Homo sapiens: one gene and its partners. Changing the gene in region 1 together with any one later gene gives a genetic interaction. Each region holds a gene or a part of one and is shown on either strand. Other genes may lie near its edges.

Region 1 (5,620 bases):
TTTAGGAGGCTATATAGTTTTTCCACTGGTATGTCCTACTATTATTCAATCTATTCTTTGAAACTCAGAAGTTCTTTGGAAACAAATTTTTAAATAATTCTTCATATTTCACTTAACAAAAAAAAAATGGCACTCATTTTAGATACCTTTTACCTTATGACCAAGATGATACGAGGTGGCTCATCTCCCACTTTAAAGTCAAGTTCATCTTCAGAGTTTAAAAGATTTGCCACCATTAGGTGGCAATATTCAAAATGGTGTACCTCAGGCTCTGAAAGCAATTATAAAAGAACCGTAGCAAACTATTTTGAAAAAATGGTAACATGGTTGGAATAAGTGTTTAACCTCCTTAGCTGATTACGGCCCTTGTAAGAAACTGAGAGAGTACTGTTTTTTACTTCGTTGTCTCTGTGTACATTATTTATACATATACACATTTTTTAGTCATTCTTTATTGTTATATATTATAGATTCTTGCCTATGTTTTTGTTTCCTTTTGGACTTTTCCTGCTAATTTTGTACTGTTTTTAGGGTCAAAGTAGTTGTATTTTCTCTGGTATTTCATTGGTCAGAGTAATTGTATTTTCTTCCCAAGTATTGAGAAGCCCATCTAAATTCTGCCCCGTAGCTAATACATTGGGGGAATGGGGTGGAGGCGGGGGCGGGATATATTCCCGTAACTTAAAAATAAGCTGACATTTTGAGAATGCTGTGATTAAAAATCAGTATTCTCCTGGGAAGCTAAAAACTCTTATCCAAGTCAGAGATCAGAGTATAGCCTGATAATGAATTCTAGTTGTGTTAAAAATGTTTATGAGTGCGTGTATTAATAAAACTGAAGAGGAGTTACATCATCAAAAAAGGAATGCTTAATTTTGGGACATAGAAAAATGGAGTTAGGCAGAATTGCCATGCTATTTAAAAACTTTCTAGGTGCAAAGGTACCTTGTCCCAAGGACTCGATTACCTGGCCCTCATGCAGGCATGGCCTTGCTCTAAAGATGAATTCAGACCAGGTACAGTGGCTTGCACCTGTAATCCTAGCACTTTTTGAGGCTGAGGCGGGAGGATTGCTTGAGCCCAGGAGTTTGAGACCGGCCTGGGAAACACAGGGACATCCCATCTCTACAAAAGAAACAAAATATCCAGGCGTGGTGGTGCACACCTGTGGTCTCAGCTACTCAGGAGGGTGAGGTGGGTGGATCACTTGAGCCTGGGAGGTTGAGGCAACAGTGAGCCGTGATTGTGATACTGCAATCCAGCCTGGGCAGCAAGAGTGAGACCCTGTCTCAAAAAAAAAGAAAGGATTCACATCAGTCATTGCAGCCTGTAACACTCCTTGTGGTTGGGATTCCATGCTCCCCAAGTAATCATCTGATTTTAATTCAGCCATCATGTAACATATCCTCAGGGATAGACTTGTTACTTGTCATTCATTTTTCAACATTTGATCTTATTGTATGTTACTCATTTGCTGTTCTTATTTATGTCTTAGTCATTTCCATGAATTGCTCTCTCTGAGTCCTGTCTATTCTGGGATAGTAGCAGAATTGTTTGTGGATCTGGGAGACTAAAGACCACAGACGGGGTTTCGCTCTTGTTGCCCAGGCTGGAGTGTAATGGCATGATCTTGGCTCACTGCAACTCTCCGCCTCCTGGGTTCAAGCGATTTTTCTGCCTCAGCCTCCCAAGTAGCTGGGATTGCAGGTATGTGCCACCACGCCCAGCTAATTTTGTATTTTTAGTAGAGATGGAGTTTTACCATGTTGGTCATGTTGGTCTTGAACTCCTGACCTCAGGTGATCCACCCGACGGCCTCAGCCTCCCAAAGTGCTGGGATTATAGGCATGAGCCACCACACCTGGCCTGGGCCCTAGGTCTTTAAATTATTCTTAATAACTCATAAAAGGGGCAGGTGGTCATGTCACTTAAGGACCCTAGTGGTTCTAAGCTGCCTGCTCTTTCTTACAAAGAAATAGATGACTGGATAAAATGGATTGTATTAAAATGTTTTATTTACTTGATCTTCCTATTTTTGTATAATAGGAGGTGCCTATAGATCATTAGGAATTTCCTCTGGTAAGTGGCAATTATATGGAAAACATCTACCATTTGAATTATAAAGATCTTACTCTGAGGTGTTATAATCCTCAACATTTATTACTTATAGAATGAATATTAATTCAACATTTATTGAGTACCTACTTTATGCCAGGAATAGTTGTAGTCACTAGAAATGTAAAGATGATTAATATGTATTCTATACAGTTGAAGATGCCTCATTAAGCGGAGATTAGTGCACATGTAAATAATTAGGATAAGTGCTAGAGTAGAGGTAGTGTGGGAAAGCAGGAGAAAGTGATTCTACATGGAAAGCTAGACTTTAAAGGATTGGTCTAATTCCCTAAATGGAGAATTAGGATAATTCCGACATTTAGTGATACCATGAGTAGCTGTAGAGAAATGTTTGCTGTGAACATATGTGCAGCTTGTGTAGGGAGAGTGACTTGAACTTTAGTTTATAGATGCCCTTCAACTTGTGATGTAGTTATGTGCCAATAAACTTGTTGTAAGTTGAAAGTAACTTAAGTCAAAACACATTTATTACACCTAACCTGCTGAACATCATAGCTTAGCCTAGCCTACCTTAAATGTGCTCAATACACAGACATTAGCCTCCAGTAGGGCAAAACCATTTGATAGCACAGTGTATACTATTATGCAGTATTGGTTGTTTACCCTCGTTATTGAATGGCCGACTGGGAGCTGCAGCTTATTGCTACTGCCCAGTGTCTTGAGAGTGTTGTACTAGATATCACTAGCCTTGGAAAAGATCAAAATTCAAACTTTGAAGTACAGTTTCTAGTAAATTTTTATCTTTTTCTGGGCTAGCAAAACAGGTTAAGAACTCTCTCCTCTTCAGTGCTAGGCACTGCTGTGTGCTATTTTAATTGTTAAACAACCCTGAGTGATAGGTGGTATTTCCCCTATCTTACAATGAAGAAACTTAAGGTCAGAGAAATAATAAAAGTCATTTGCTCAAGGTCATATAATGCCATTAATATCTCCTTCAGTTATCTGTTTCTGTGTAATAAGCTATTCTTTAATTTTATGACTTAAAGCAATGATTTATTATTTTTCATGTTTCTTACGCGTCGACTAAGCTCAGCTAGGAAGTTCTACCTTGGGGAGTCTCCTTTGGTTGCAGTCAGATAGCAGCTAAAATTAAAGTACTCTGTAGGTTCAACCAGGCTGCACGTCCAAGATGGCTTCTTTATTTGTCTGTCTATCATCTCAGCTAGAATGGCTGGAAGAGATAGGGGCTGACTGGTCATCCCTTTCAACAGGGTCTCACCACATGATCAACTTGGGCTTACTCATTAAATTGCACAGCAGTCTTGGGCTTGCTGTATAGTATCTGACTTACCCTAGGAGGACTTGTCCAAGACAGCCAGGCAGCAACTGCAATGTTTCTGATGATTTAGGCTCAGAAATCACGTCTGGTCATTTCTGCTGCATCTGTGGGTTAAAAGTAAGTCACAGGGCCACCCCAGATTCAAGAGGAGGCGGCTACGTAAGGGCATGACTATCCAGAGGCCATCTTGGACACTAGCTTCTACCACATGCTGTGCTGTCTTTGGGAATTGCTTTCGGACAGGCTGGAAATAGATGGGTCTTACAAATGCCTGGCTGAAATGTGAAGAGGGTGCAAGAAAACATCTGGGGAACGTGAATGTCTGAGAGAAGACTCAAGGAAGAGGAGTCATTGAAAAAAAATAAATGACTAGAGACAGGAAGAAAACTTGGAGAAAGTGGTGCCACAGAAGCCAAATGGGGGGAGGGAGTCGCTGCCACCATAGCCATAGGTTCTTAGATTTGTTTTTCATGTTACAGTGGCCCTGTGGTTTTAAGGTACTCATAATTTACGATTACCCATTTAAAAAACTGACCTTTTTCCTTCCCATTCACTCCACTCCACACACATGCACCCAGTTGATGCCTTAAGTTCCAGTTAGAACCTCATTGATGTAATCCAATGTGAAACATTTATACTTTAAGTCATTTGTAAATTGTGATTATGTTTGGTCTACTTTACTGAGAGTAGGCTTGCCTAGGAATAGAGGAAATGTAGTGCCATGGCTTCCTAGAGAGGTGGTTGGAAAGATGAGAGTTGTCTCTAGAATAATGGCGATGGGGAAGGTGAGTATAATGGCACACTTCTGCTGGTCTTGCTAGGATGTTCTTTTGACTTCTGAGAAAGTATAAAGTGCCATGCACTGAATTATGCCATAGATAGAAGGGTGAGATACAGAGTATATTTTTTCCTATAATTAATCTTTTTTTTTCCTTTTTTGAAAAAAAATCACTGGTGTTTTCTCTATTTCAGAGCACAAAGTTATCATTGTTGGGCTGGATAATGCAGGGAAAACTACCATTCTTTACCAATTGTAAGTATTAACTATTTTAAAAATTATTTTATTTCTAGTTACTTTTTTGGCCTGGGTGATAGTCGATCAATGAATGCAGTAAGAAATTACATGAAACCTAAGTTACCCTGTAAGAAAGCAGGTTGGCTATAAACCTGGAGCCAGATCTCAGCAATAGTTAGTAGAAAGCAAGAAATTTATATGATATTGAGCATATAGTTGGCATTGAGTTGTCCACTTGTTTTGTGCTAAAGCTCTTTTGTTTGTAGAAAGTAGAAAAATATGGCCGGGTGCGGTGCCTCATGCCTTTATCCCAACACTTTGGGTGGCAGAGGTGGGAGGATCGCTTAAAGCCAGGACTTTGAGAAACCGCTTGGGTCACATAGTGAGATGCCATCTCTTTATAAGATATATATGAATATATATATATTTTAAAATTAGCTGGATGTAGTGGTGCACACCTGTAGTTCCAGCTACTCAGGAGACTGAGGTGGGAAGATTGCTTGATCCTATTCAGGAGGTCAAGGCTGCAGTGAACCTCATGCCACTGATTATGTATGATCACACCACTACACTCCGGCCTGGGTAACATTAAAAAAAAGAAAGTAGAAAACTATAAAGTAGAAACTATAAAGTTTCCTGGAATGACCTAGTATATGCCAGATAGCCTACGACCTAGTTCCAGCCCTGTTTAAACCCTCACTCATGTTGTAAACTAGTGGGAAAAAGATATTTAGGTATAAATTATAAAAGGAGGTCATGCTGATTTGTCCTTGATTAAAAAATTGTTCAAGCAAGTTAGCTTCCTTGCTAATTGTAATGTATATAAACTTTTTTCCCCAGTTCTATGAATGAAGTTGTACATACATCTCCTACAATAGGAAGTAATGTAGAAGAGATAGTGATTAATAATACACGTTTCCTAATGTGGGATATTGGTGGCCAAGAATCTCTTCGTTCTTCCTGGAACACTTACTATACTAACACAGAGGTAATGTTTCTTACAATATTTAAAATTCTATAAACAGAATGCTTGGAAAACATCTAGATTTGAGTCCTTATAGTTAATCTTTTTGAAATATCACAGTATGTTAATACATAGAGAGTTTAAGCAGAGTAAAATCTGATTTCCTATTCCAAGGTCATTGTTCAATATGTCCACTATCATTGAACCTCTATAGGGAGAATTGGTG
Region 2 (3,689 bases), about 84 Mb from region 1:
AGATAATTAGTCAAGCTAATTAGAAAGTATCTTCTGGTGTCTCTCTTTAGGAAAAAATATCTACAGTCTGTTAGGTAAATAGCTTAGGAAATAAAAGCCATCAAAATCATCTGGGAAACTTATTTAAAATATGTATTTCTTAGCCTGAATACCCCCTCCCATTTCTGATTATACCAAGAAAGGAAAGGGAGGCAGATTATATATTTTGAAAATGCCTCTGTTAGTTAACAAGAGAAATGTCTCATAAATTGTGTATCTTTTTCTAAATGTCAGAATAAATGATATACTTAAATATGTATTAGGGTGATAGTCTTAAACTTAAAATATCATTTAAATGAGAAAGTGATTTCTAATACAAAGCCTCAACTTACTAAGTTAATTGAGATTATTTTAAAGTTTCTCCAAAATGCATCCTCCAAATAAAAATATAATTTCTGACAGTGAATCACAGGTAACCAGTTTGACATGACAGATTTCATTTTATCACTCTAAAATATATTTCCTCAGTGGATGAAATGAAAATTTTATAGCTCTATAGGGAAAAGTAGATGTGAATATTAATATAACATCTTATGTAAATATACACTGTTTGAGATTGATAACTAATTTAATTCCTTATATTTTGACTATTTTCCAATTAAAGTTTACATAACATTTTAAATCCCAATGTATCCTTTTTAAAGATATATTTATTCGTGGGTCATATAAATTAGATGTCATTGTCCACAAGAATTATTTGGTGGGTAGTCAGTTTTCTATCAAACTGAATTTTATCACACTGTGAAAAGAATGTATCAAATAGAGACAGATCCATCAGTGCTTGATTTTCTTTTGAACTGGAGCATTATATCTGTATTATGTACTTAGAATTTTATATTCAGTAGTTTAGTTTGATTTAATAGCCAACTAATATGGCAAATCTGGGTGATTAAAAAAAGCAAAAATTAAAGCACATATTGAATGACTTTATAGGCTATAAAAGTAAAACTCATCTTTTGTTGAATTTTTAGAGGAAGAAGAGAAAAATAGAAAGTGTTCTCCTGAAGAAATTCAGAGAAAAAGACAAGAAGCACTGGTTCGGAGAATGGCTAAAGCACGAGCCTCATCTGTAAATGCAGCTCCCACTTCATTTCTTTAATGAAATATTAGTTGGAAGACTTCACGAAGACTGCTGATAACTATCTGTGATTGATAGGAAATTTTTTTTCTTGATTTCTCTGTGAGAAATGTAATGCTGACTTTTATAAAGCCTGGACTTCTACTTTATTTAATAAATCAATGTTTGCAATGGTAAATGAAACATTTCCTTGGACATGTATTTGAAAGTCATTAAATACAAAAGTTTTGGAAATTCAGGAAAGTTAGCAATTATGTACGGATATTATACAGAGGAAAGTAGTTATATTTTTAAATGCTATTATTGCAGAGGATCATCAAAAAAGAGGTAATCTACGTTATTTCCTATTCTAATGTCTTTTCCTAATAAAAAACTTCAACTTTCTAAGTTAGTAGAGACTGTTTTTGTAGTTTTACTTTCATTAACTGTTGCTTAAGGTTTTTATACACTTCCAGATTTTAATTAATACTTTCATATTTCTAGGAACATGGTTGATATGAAATAAAGGACTTTTTATTTGTAAGGAAATTATGTTCAGTTCTTAGAAGTGGATTTGAATTTTAATAATTCTAAAATGTGACACATTTTGGAAACTTTCCACCATATTTAGGAAAACTTTGATTTTAGAAGTCTAACATAGAGGAAAAGAAGTAGTGGATTGTCTACAAAAGTAATGTGGCATCATTAACATTTAGAACTGGCAGAAACTTCATATGTCATCTGGTCCAGCTTCCTTATTGTATCGGTGAGAAAAAGTAATACTGTTTTCAAAGTCATAGGCAAGTTAATGCTGTGCTACAATTAGAATGATTTATTTGGACACCTAAACAATTATACTATTTGTTTCAAAGTATCAGTACATAAAATAACTTGAGGGAGTATTATTTTCTAGTATAAAACAAAAGATGTAATTAAAAGCACAATAAGGACTGTTTGATAATAATGCTCATTGTTCCTTATTTTGCTTTAAAGAATTAGTCTTTCCAGGATATAAAAATGAGAATCTTTTTTCTTTTCAGTTTTTCTGTAACTGTAATTTTCCCCTCAATTAATTTACTTAGTTGACTCATCTTTTCTTCTCTATTACTGTTTTGTTTTTTTCTTTTTTTGCCATTTTGCCTATTTGGAATTTGCTAAACCAGTAATAGAAGTCCAACTAGAGGGCGTAAGGCAGGGAGGATGCTTTATTCCTCTTAAATGGTTTTAGGAGATCTAGAGAAAGTTAGAGATATGAAACACCTGTCATGGTGTGGCATTTATCACTATCAAGTGTCTCAAAGCTGTGATAATATGGTAGTTACTGCCCTATAGCTATACAGATACTCCTCAACTTACCGTGTAGTTACATCCCAATAAACCCATCATGAGTTGAAAATACCTTAAGTTAAAAATGCATTTACTACACTTAATCTACCAGACAACATAGCTTAGCTTAGCCTACCTTAAACATGCTCAAATCACTTATATTAGCCTAGAGTTGGGCACATCATCTGGCAATACGGCACACTGTAGAGTATCAGTTGAGCTGATGCCCAGCATCGTGAGAATGTTGTACCACATATCTCTAGCCTGGGAAAGAATCAAACTTTAAAGTATGGTTTCTATTGGACGCATATCACTTTTGCATCACGTTAGAGTTGAAAAATTGTAAGTCAACCATTTTAAGTTGGAGACTGTACATCAAAAATGGTATTTTCATATCTACAGTGGAGTACTGGAGTTTAGCTAACCTATATTATTTTTCCAGGAATATATAATAACCTAGATAAATGCAAGTAGTTTCTATGTACAAAAATAAAGAGCTGAGAATCTTTTACTAAAAGTGGCTTCACTGTGTTCTGACTATGCTTTGGATATCTCTGTCCTTGCTTAAGCTCCTCCCTGCTTACTGCTTGCTTTTTTAAGAGTACTTTTAGCCTATTCTGTTCATTCATTTAGACTCAGCCTAATAAGTCTGTTTGAACCTCGTACCTAACCATCTTCACTGGAATTGATTGCTTCTCTCTGATCATAATGGTACTAATTATTGTGTCTTTCATTGAGCAATACTATAATGCCTTTATGTGTTGTTTAGTTGTATAAATCTTATTTTATAATTTGTCATTTTGTGTCTCTGGTAATTCTGCCAAATTCTTATACAGCTCATAGTATTATTTACGTAATAGTTTTCTCTAAGTGACTCCCTTTTTTTAAAAAAAAAAAAAAAAAAAAAACTTTTATAGCACTTCTGGGTGGTGGCAGGTGTAATGGCCCTGTACATCTGAACCTCACATGACTGGTTTTTAGGGTCACTGCTCCTGTTCATACCACTCTCCTTTCCTATCCTGACTCTTCCTTTAGCCCTTGTTGGAAACATTAGGGGGTGAATGGCCCATAAATGAGCATGCAGAGGGCTGACTATATAGTTTGCCTGGCTTTTCTCTTTCCTAGTCTATAGGGAATCTGGGGAAGGGACAACTGGTAGCCTGGCAATTTCCCCCTAAAGTTCCGCTGCTGTTTCTGCATCTCAGACTGATGCTAATAATGCCATTATTTCCAAAAAGAGCCTGTTGAAAGCGGAGCTTATCTCTCA
Region 3 (4,560 bases), about 150 Mb from region 1:
CCCTGCCCCTTCACTGTGCCCTCCCCCTGCCCCTTCACTGTGCCCTCCCCCTGCCCCATCACTGCGCTCCCCCTGCCCCTTCACTGTGCCCTCCCCCTGCCCCTTCACTGTGCCCTCCCCCTGCCCCATCACTGCCCTCCCCCTGCCCCTTCACTGTGCCCTCCCCCTGCCCCTTCACTGTGCCCTCCCCCTGCCCCTTCACTGCCCTCCCCCTGCCCCTTCACTGTGCCCTCCCCCTGCCCCTTCACTGTGCCCTCCCCCTGCCCCTTCACTGTGCCCTCCCCCTGCCCCTTCACTGTGCCCTGCTGGGCAGCCTTCCTGGGCTGCAGGGCAGATGCTCTGTGGTACCTGCTCCCGCTCCTCTCAGGAAGGCCTTCCTCTCCCTCTCTGGGTCACCTCTCCCTGGCACATGCTTCTCCCAAACCTGCATCTCCAGTGTCTTCTCTCCTCAGCTACAACCTGCCATCTGCAGGTTTACCAGGCACTTTTCACGTGACTGTTCCACCATCTTGTCATTTTTTATATCTTCTGTCATTTTGTAAAACCCAGCTCATCTGCCTGCTGCGTCTCCATGTCCGGCCTGCCCTGGGTGGGTAGAGACAGGTTCGCGCTGTCCCTCAGATTTCCACGTTAGTGTTTTATTGGTTAGTTTGTTTCTGGGTCTCTCTCACCCTCTAGGGAGCAGCCACGGCTCCCCCCACCGCCCCCGCTGCCTGCTGCTCTCCTCCTGCCGGGCCAGGTGATGCAGCGTCTGACCACGTGCAGTCTTTAGACTGCCCTAGTCGGTCTGTACGCTGCAGCTGGATTCGTTTTCCAAACATTTTATTTCAAAATACATTTCTCTGTTTAGAAGCACCCAGTTGCCCCTCTTGCCTGGAACTGAAATCTCACCATTGTGACCTGATGTTGGAAACTTGCCCTGGCTTCTGGGACCTGGCCCTCTTCGTCGGCCTTGTGTCCCCCCGAGCCTAGCACAGTGCCTGGTTCACAGCAGGCAGTCAGTAAATGGCCACTGAGTGAATGAATGAGGAAATGCAGATTCCGCCAACATTTACTCATCGAACTTCTTTGTTCTTCTTTCCACGAGAATTAAAACCTTAAGTTTCTCATTTTTAAAAATGGTCATTGGCCGGGCGTGATGGCTCACGCCTGTAATCTCAGCACTTTGGGAGGCCGAGGCAGGCAGATCACCGGAGGTCAGGAGCTCGAGACCAGCCTGGCCAACATGGCGAAACCCCATCTCTACTAAAAATACAAACTTTAGCCGGGCGTGGTGGCGGGCGCCTGTAGTCCCAGCTACTCAGGAGGTTGAGGCAAGAGAATCACTTGAACCCAGGAGGCGGAGATTGCAGCGAGTCGAGATCGTGCCACCGCACTCCAGCCTGGGCAATAGAGACTCTGTCTCAAAAAAAAAAAAAAAAAAAAACATTGTCATAGTGGCAGGCACAGTGGCTAATGCCTGTAATCCCATAATCCCAGCACTCTGGGAGGCTGAGGTGAGTAGATCACTTCAGCCCAGAAGTTCAAGACAAGCCTGGGCAACATGGGAAAACCATATCTCTACAAATACTCGCCTGCTTCTGCCACTCTGCACCATCAATATAAATAATAACTAATTCACAATAATCAGTCATGAAAGAATAAAATGGAAAACATGCCAAATGCAGGCCCCTGCTTTGTTATCACTGCATGCCATACACATAAAGTTCTCTGTCACGTGACTACAGGAGCATCTCCATTCCTGTGCCTCGTCCTCAGGTATCAGACGCAAGCCACTCGCGGGCTGAAGTCAGCCCACAGTCCTCCTTGAAGTCAACAGAAATGAACTACTGAGCCACGAGGGGCCTAGACCTGGGATCCGCCAGCGTTTTCTGTAAAAGACCATAGAATAAACATTGTAGACTTCCTGGCCATACAGTATCTGTCCAGCTCCTCAGCTCTGCTGTGAATGCCCAGCTCTTCCATGGTAGCACAGAACCTTATCACCGTGCAGGTGCACACGAGGCTGGGCTCTGGGTTCCTGTGAGCTCTGCCTACCAACTCAGGCAGTAGGGGGTGGGGGGCGTCCAAAGGATGTGCACAGATTGCCAGCACCAGGCCCAGCTGCTGGAACATCCTCATAGCTTTACTCACATCTACACGGACGCCTTAAGTTCACCCCATCAGTGCAGGGAGACAGGGGCCTTCAAATGTGATGACACGACACTGCTGTGGCCTGTGCTCTTGGAAGCCTGCAAAGGCCAGCACACCCGACCCTCCTCTGCCTCACCTCCTGTGCCACCCCATCCTCACCTGCTTCCCCAGCCTCTCCTCATCCACACCTGCTCGGCCCCTCCTCCACCGCCTCCCTCCGGCCCGCTGGTCCTTACTGCATCCCCTCGGGCCCTGCACCCTGCCCTCTGCTCCCTGTGCCCCCCATGCCTGCTCTCGCCTTGTTTTGCACACATTCTGTCCTCTTCTAGGGTCTCCGCCCCCTCCCCTTCCCTGATTAACTCCTGCCTGTCCTCACTGTAGGTCATGTCCTGAGGGAAGAGGGCCCCAGCCTTTCTAGCAGGAAAGGCCAGAGCCTTAGGCCTAGGGAACCAGGAAGGGAGCAGTTATTAGTTGCCCCTGGATACAGAATCTGCCTAGATGCATATATAGAACTGGTTCAGACTTGGCACAATCTCTTTCCCTCTCACTCTTTCACATTTGCAATTCAAAGAGAATATACAGAGCCATTTGTATTATATAAAGTGATTATTGCATTGAATTTAGACTAGAGAAGGCATTTGGAGATCGTTTTAGTAAATTATCGTAACCAATCTAAAAATACTTCTGAACTGTCAACCAGAACACAGAAATCCTGTATTACTTGCTGTAGTCTGGACAGTTTAGGGGAACGTGGCACCGATCTCATCTTCACCGTCGATCAGTGGTTCTCTGACTTGGTCCAGTGGCCGCACACCAGCTAGTGAAGAAAACCACAGACTCCAACTGCACTGTGTACGCTCTGGTGTCCTCATTTCCAAAAAAAAAAAAAAAAAATCTACAAGATAGAGTTTAAGAAATCTCATTTGAGTTGCCCTGCTAATATTTGCAGCTCGCTGGTGGGTGCCGTGGAGGCCAGTACTCACCGTCAGGCTGTGGCAGGTACAGTGAAAGGAAAAACTCCATGAGAGAACGGTGGAAAGTTCACCTGAGAGTGAAACGCATGCCAGTTAGAGTGGCTGAAAAATAGCATGGACAACACCAAGTGCCACGGGACGTGCAGCCGTGGGACCCCTCACTGCTAGGGAAGGCAAGATGGCACGGCCACTTAGGAAGACAGCTTGGCGGCCTCCTACAACACTAAACATACTCTTAGGTACAACCCAGCAATCCAGTTACTGCATTACGCTCCTGGATATTTCACCCAGTTATGCCGAATGCTTATATCCACACAAGAATCTGCCCAAAGATGTTGATACCAGCTTTATCCATAGTTGCCAAAAACTAGAGGCAACCAAGGGGTCCTTCGATAGGTCAGTGGGTAAACACACTGGTAATGTGGACAGTAGGATGTTCAGCATTTAAAAAAAAAACAACTATCAACCCCTCAGAAGACCTGGAGGAAACTGAGATGCCTGCAGCCCAGGGACGGCTGGTGGCTTGCAGCAGGTCACACGGCTACTCAGGCGTAGAGCCTGGCCTGTCTGAAGCTCAAGGCCCAGCACCCGTTCCTTTCCTTACACATAGAGTTTCACTAGGCACGCACACGCTGACTCTGGATTGATGAAGAAACAGTTTGGGAATTTTTAACAGCATCGTTCACATTTTTAATGCCTGCCTCCTGCCTGGCACTGTGCTCAGCACTTTCATGTATCTTCTTTAATTGTCACATCTGTGAGGTGGGACAGATGACCTCAGCTCTGTAAACTCAGCCATTGCTGAGCCTGCAGTGTGAGTGTGAGGCCACATGTCAGAACCCCGGAAGACACAAGCCCCACTCTCCTGCCTTCAACACAGCCCCCCACACCGCCGCTGTGGCTGGAATTGGAGCAGGTCGTTAGCTCCTGCCTGAGGAAGCCCAAATAAAGGACTGCAGAACAACTGTAGTGCAAAGCTGAGACTCATTGCCCTCCTAGGCGTTTCATGAGCAGGTCCTGAGTTCTCTGTGTCCCGGCGTGGAGTGCAGGAGGCGTGGAAAGGGAGTAGTGCGTGTGTGAGTTAGTATACAGAAGAAGTGTGTGGCAGGCTCTACCACACGTTTTTAAAATATGTAAACTCCTAAACTTCTTGTCAGAGAAGCGCTTGGCATGCACACAAAATCATTTAGCTAATTCTTGAGAAACATATTGTTTAATTGTCTGTCTCCCTTGCTAGATCATACCACTAATGAGTGCTCGTTCACTAACCTCCCCGCCAGCCTTGCAGTCTCTGTCAGGCAGGAGGTACTTAAAGCATGTTTATTGACTGGCTGCAGAAATGAGGACATCTACCGTATTCAAAGATAGTGCCCGTTACATTGAGAAAAGACAGAGTGAGCATCCACTTTTAGCTTCTTAAAAGGTTTAAACATTCTGATCTTATTTTCCCATT
Region 4 (4,560 bases), on another chromosome or scaffold:
AAAGTCAAAAACCAAAAAGTCAGCACTGAATGACATTTCACACATGGGTAACTGCATGAGTGGTGTTGAGGTAGAAGATGGGAAAGGAGAGCAACTTTAGGGTGGGAGAAAGTTTTTTCTCTTTTTTTAATGTAATAGTTTATTTTTGATAATTTTTGATAATTGAATGTGAACTTGCAAAAGTGTGTCTCACGAAAACTCCCATATTTGGGTGGATGTCCTGACTGGGGCTCAGGCTATAGGTCAGCACTGGACACTGGAGGGTGGATTTGGATGACACCCATCTGGCTCTAGTGTTCATTTGTACCCAAAGCAGTGAGGATGGGAGGAGGGGGCCAAGAACTAACCCCCAAGGAGTCCACAGTTAGGGGGAGGAGGAAGACAAAACCATTGAAGAAGGCAGAAAAGGGTTGGTTGGAGAGATTATGAGAAATAGGAAAGTGATGTATTAGCAGCTGAAGGAGAAAGTTTCGAGACATTTGGGCAGTCACCTGGCTCATGCTGCTAGGAAGTTCAAGAAGACGAGAACTGCGGAAGGACACCAGATTTTGTGGGAAGAAAGTAATTGTTAGAAATGGGGTTTCTTTAAATGATGAACAGTCCAATTCTTTAGTGACCAGAAATGTGTGAGCAGAAATAAAGGCGGGAAGAGAAAACATTGTGGTTCAGAAGTCTGCCATTGGGAGAAATAAATTTGAGTTTTAGTGTGAGAGAACATCAAAGCGTAACTATAATTGTTAGTTTTCATGGTGTTAGAGGGTTTTCATATGGAACAGGTGCCTGGAAGAGCTCACCTAGCTTCTCTGGTTAGGGCAGTCCTCAGGCCAGCATTGCCTGAGAGCTGATTAGAGATGCAGAATCTTCAGCTCCTCCCTAGAGTCTGCATTTTAACAAGATCCCCTGGTCATTTGCCTGCTCACTGATGCTTGAGAAGTGCTAGTCTAGGACTTATAGTAAGTGGCAGAGTTCAGACTGGATGTAGCTTAGTCCAGGAATATTTCCAGGTAATGCTAACTTAGATTTTTCTCTCTCTTTTTGTGTGTGTTTGTTTGTTTTTTGGTATTTTCTTTCCATAGTGTCAAAAGTTTGGACAGTATAACAAAGAAGACCCCACTTCTTTTAGGTTATCAGATTCCTTTTCTCTATATCCTCAGGTAAGTAATGTATGTTTCTAAAATAACTACAGAGCAATAAATTTTGATAGAAATTAACTTTATTCTTAGGGTAAAGTGAAGACTTTTTAATGTGTTGAGACTCAGTCTGTAGGTGACAGAGATTGTTCAACCCAAGTCGAATATGTGTCTAGGCAAGACAGCACCCTACGCCCTACAGAAGATAGAGATGACATGCAGAGGGGAGAAAACTCATGCATACATTTTCATGAACAGGCAAAATAGGATCATTGATATAAGGCCGTAAAAAATATCTCTCATGTGTAGAAGTTCTGGGGAAACAGCTACCTCAGCAACAAACCAAGAAAATGAGCACACATGGAGATGAAGATAACAAAACAAAACCACAGTTAGTACAACAAATATTTAATAATATGTCTGTGGTTATTATGTGCATCATAACCAGGAGTGAGCAATAAGCAGCTCCTGAAAGTAACTGCACTCTGCATGAACCAAGCCTTTGGAAGCCATTGGACAAGAGAGAGGAGCAGGAGAAGTAGATGAATTTCCGTCTCCATTGTAACTTAGGAAATAGAGCACAATTCATGGGTGTCTATAAGGATTACAGGAGCTGAGGCCAACTGAGTATTAAATATTTAGCACAATGCCAGTAACCTGTTCAGCACTAAATGTGACCTAGCTCCATAGCAGGTGCCTGGGACTCTGAGGTGTCCATGTGCCAGAGGTTAAAGCTGTGTGGTGTTGTGAGAAGAGCCCTGGACCGGCCAGAGTCAGGTTGAGGTTCCAGTGCTGGCTCCGCAGGGGCTGACCTTAGAGGAGGTTCCAAAGCCCCGTAGAGTTTGGTTTCCCACCTCTAGCAGTGGGGAGTTGGTCTGGTGAAGTGGTTTGCAGTTTTTTTTTTTTTTTTTTTTTTTTTTAAAGCCATGGAATCCTTTCTTTGAGAGGAGCTGCCCTTAAAAGCCAGCACATAAAGCAGACAGAGTTGGTGCTTCTCTGGTTGTGCCTGTGTACCACCCCCACACTGGGTCCCACCAGAGCCCTCATCCCTGGGCCCCTGAGGACTTGATGAAGACTCTAAGAGCACAGCTTGAAAACCAGATGAAATGCTTTCTCAGATTCCTTCTGTCAAGGCATTCTAGGAAAGAGGCCAACAGCCCAGTCTCTAGAGCCAGGCGGCCAGGTGTAGAGTCCAGCTGTGACACTCAGTAGTGGGGTGACCTTGGACAAGTTGCTCGCCCCTCTGTGCCTCAGTTTCCTCACCTGTAAACTAGGGATGGTAAGAGAACTTACCTCATGGGCTTATTGGAAGGATTAAATAGTTCTTGTCAAGTGCTTTGTGACTTGCATGTAGGATGTATTAGATGTCAGCCTTGATTATTATTTAGGAACCTATGATTGAATATTTGGAGTCTCAGGAAGCTTTACACTTCACAAGGCAGCTCATTTTCGTGTTCTGGCAACTCTTTAATGTGAGCTGAAAGTCTGCCCCCACCCCTTCTTCTCATCCTCGAGGGCGAGAACCTATGGTTGCAGTGTCATCCCTTGTCCCTTTCTCCCCTGCACCAACACTTCACCATCCCAGCTTGTGTCCTGAGCTGTCATCTGCTGTTCCTGTGCCTGGAATCCCCTTCCCCCTGGCCCTGTGGCCTCCTCAGCCACGTCTCTCAGGGTGCACTGTCAGTCCCCGGAGCTCTAGGAAGTCTCCTCCTGGCCCTCCACCCCCACTCCCCACTGCTATCCTGTACTCTGGCTCATAACTCGTAGCCCGAGTGTGCCTTTCTCACTGGGCCTGACTTCTGAGAGCAGATATTCTGTCTCCACTGCCTGGCACAGTGACTCTGGAAATAAACATTTCTTTGGCTTTCCTCTTAACTGTGGAAGCTTTGACATACCCAGAGGCCCTTTTCTTAAAAAAATTTTGTATTTTTTTAAAAATTTTTAATTTTTAATTTTTTTGAGACGGAGTTTTGCTCTTGTTGCCCAGGCTGGAGTGCAATGGCCTGATCTCAGCTCACCGCAACCTCCCCCTACTGGGTTCAAGTGATTTTCCTGCCTCAGCCTCCTGAGTAGCTGGGATTACAGGCGCCCACCACCACACCCGGGTAATTTTGGATTTTTAGTAGAGACGGGGTTTCTCCATGTTGGTCAGGCTGGTCTTGAACTCCCGACCTCAGGTGATCCGCCCGCCTCGGCCTCCCAAAGTGCTGGGATTACAGGCGTGAGCCACCACGCCTGGCCAAAGGCCCTTTAAAAAAAAAAATTAATTTTTAATGTGGTAAAACACACATAACAAAATTTACCATCTTAACCATTTTTAAGCATACCGTTGAGTAGTGTTACGTGTATTCCCATTATTGAGCAACTGATGTCTAGAATTTTTCACTTTGCAGAGCTGAAACTCTGTGCTCATTAAGCAACAACTCTCAGTTTTCCTCTTTCCCTAGCCCCTGGTGCCCCCTTATGCTTTCTGTTCTGTGAAACCAGAGAGCCCTTTTCTGGGTTCTCCTATTTCAGAGCCCTGAGGTAGATCTACTCTGTGGGTGTCTAAGAAGGTTACAATTATATGCATTTCTCTTTCCGTTCTTTGTGAATGCAGTTTATGTTCCATCTGAGAAGATCTCCATTTCTTCAAGTGTTTAACAACAGTCCTGATGAGTCGTCATATTACAGACATCATTTTGCCCGGCAGGACCTGACCCAGTCCCTCATCATGATCCAGCCCATTCTCTACTCTTACTCCTTTCATGGGCCACCAGAGGTGAGGCTCTACCCAAATGCTTTCCTGAGGATTGGAATCACCTAACATATATTCTTTTTTAAGCAAATTTACTTAGCAGAACTGTAAAAAAGAAGTAAAATTTGGAGTTTTTATAGTAATTTAACATTATTTCTATTAAAAAATACCTTTAGGAAAATGTCAAAGGACATATAAAGCTATTATTTGTGAAAGGCAGGAATAAATGTAAAAAACTCTAGGAAATAACTTGGATGCTTTCTTTTTCCTTGTGCTTGTATACTTACATCCAACAATTCCATGTCTTGTATCTGAAGGAAAGACTCCTAGATACAGAGTAGACTTTGTGCCAAAAAAAAAAATAGTAAAGGAACTACTATAATAGAGGATCAAATAACAATCCGAATGTTTAATATAGGAAAATAAATAAGTAACCTGAGAAATGCAGTTGACCCTCAGTATTCATGGAAGATTGGTTCCAGGACCTCCCTCAGATACCAGAATTCTTAGATACTCAAGTTACTAATATAAAATTACATAATATTTGCATGTAACCTTGGCACATCCTCCTATATACTTTAAATCATCTCTAGATTAGTTATAATACCTAATATAATGTAAGTACCATGTAAATAATTGTCATACTGTATGGTTTAGGGAATAATGACAAGAAAACAAGTCTGTACATGTACA

The links. A genetic interaction does not mean that the proteins touch.
Region 2: changes in ARL5A (region 1) and ETAA1 are lethal when combined (synthetic lethality), as found in Homo sapiens cells (one large-scale study listed by BioGRID).
Region 3: changes in ARL5A (region 1) and TRAPPC12 together harm fitness more than expected from each alone (negative genetic interaction), as found in Homo sapiens cells (one large-scale study listed by BioGRID).
Region 4: changes in ARL5A (region 1) and SEC23B together harm fitness more than expected from each alone (negative genetic interaction), as found in Homo sapiens cells (one large-scale study listed by BioGRID).

What each region holds. Positions count from the first base shown.
Region 1 is NC_000002.12:151,813,967-151,819,586, reverse strand, and holds part of ARL5A (ADP-ribosylation factor-like protein 5A), read left to right. Parts: intron 1-4,387; coding exon 4,388-4,448; intron 4,449-5,270; coding exon 5,271-5,418; intron 5,419-5,620. UniProt on the Homo sapiens protein: Lacks ADP-ribosylation enhancing activity.
Region 2 is NC_000002.12:67,408,901-67,412,589, forward strand, and holds the end of ETAA1 (ewing's tumor-associated antigen 1), read left to right. Parts: intron 1-1,010; coding exon 1,011-1,138; 3' UTR 1,139-3,189; downstream 3,190-3,689. UniProt on the Homo sapiens protein: Replication stress response protein that accumulates at DNA damage sites and promotes replication fork progression and integrity.
Region 3 is NC_000002.12:3,416,634-3,421,193, forward strand, and holds part of TRAPPC12 (trafficking protein particle complex subunit 12), read left to right. Parts: intron 1-4,560. UniProt on the Homo sapiens protein: Component of the TRAPP complex, which is involved in endoplasmic reticulum to Golgi apparatus trafficking at a very early stage.
Region 4 is NC_000020.11:18,544,880-18,549,439, forward strand, and holds part of SEC23B (protein transport protein Sec23B), read left to right. Parts: intron 1-1,076; coding exon 1,077-1,154; intron 1,155-3,729; coding exon 3,730-3,891; intron 3,892-4,560. UniProt on the Homo sapiens protein: Component of the coat protein complex II (COPII) which promotes the formation of transport vesicles from the endoplasmic reticulum (ER).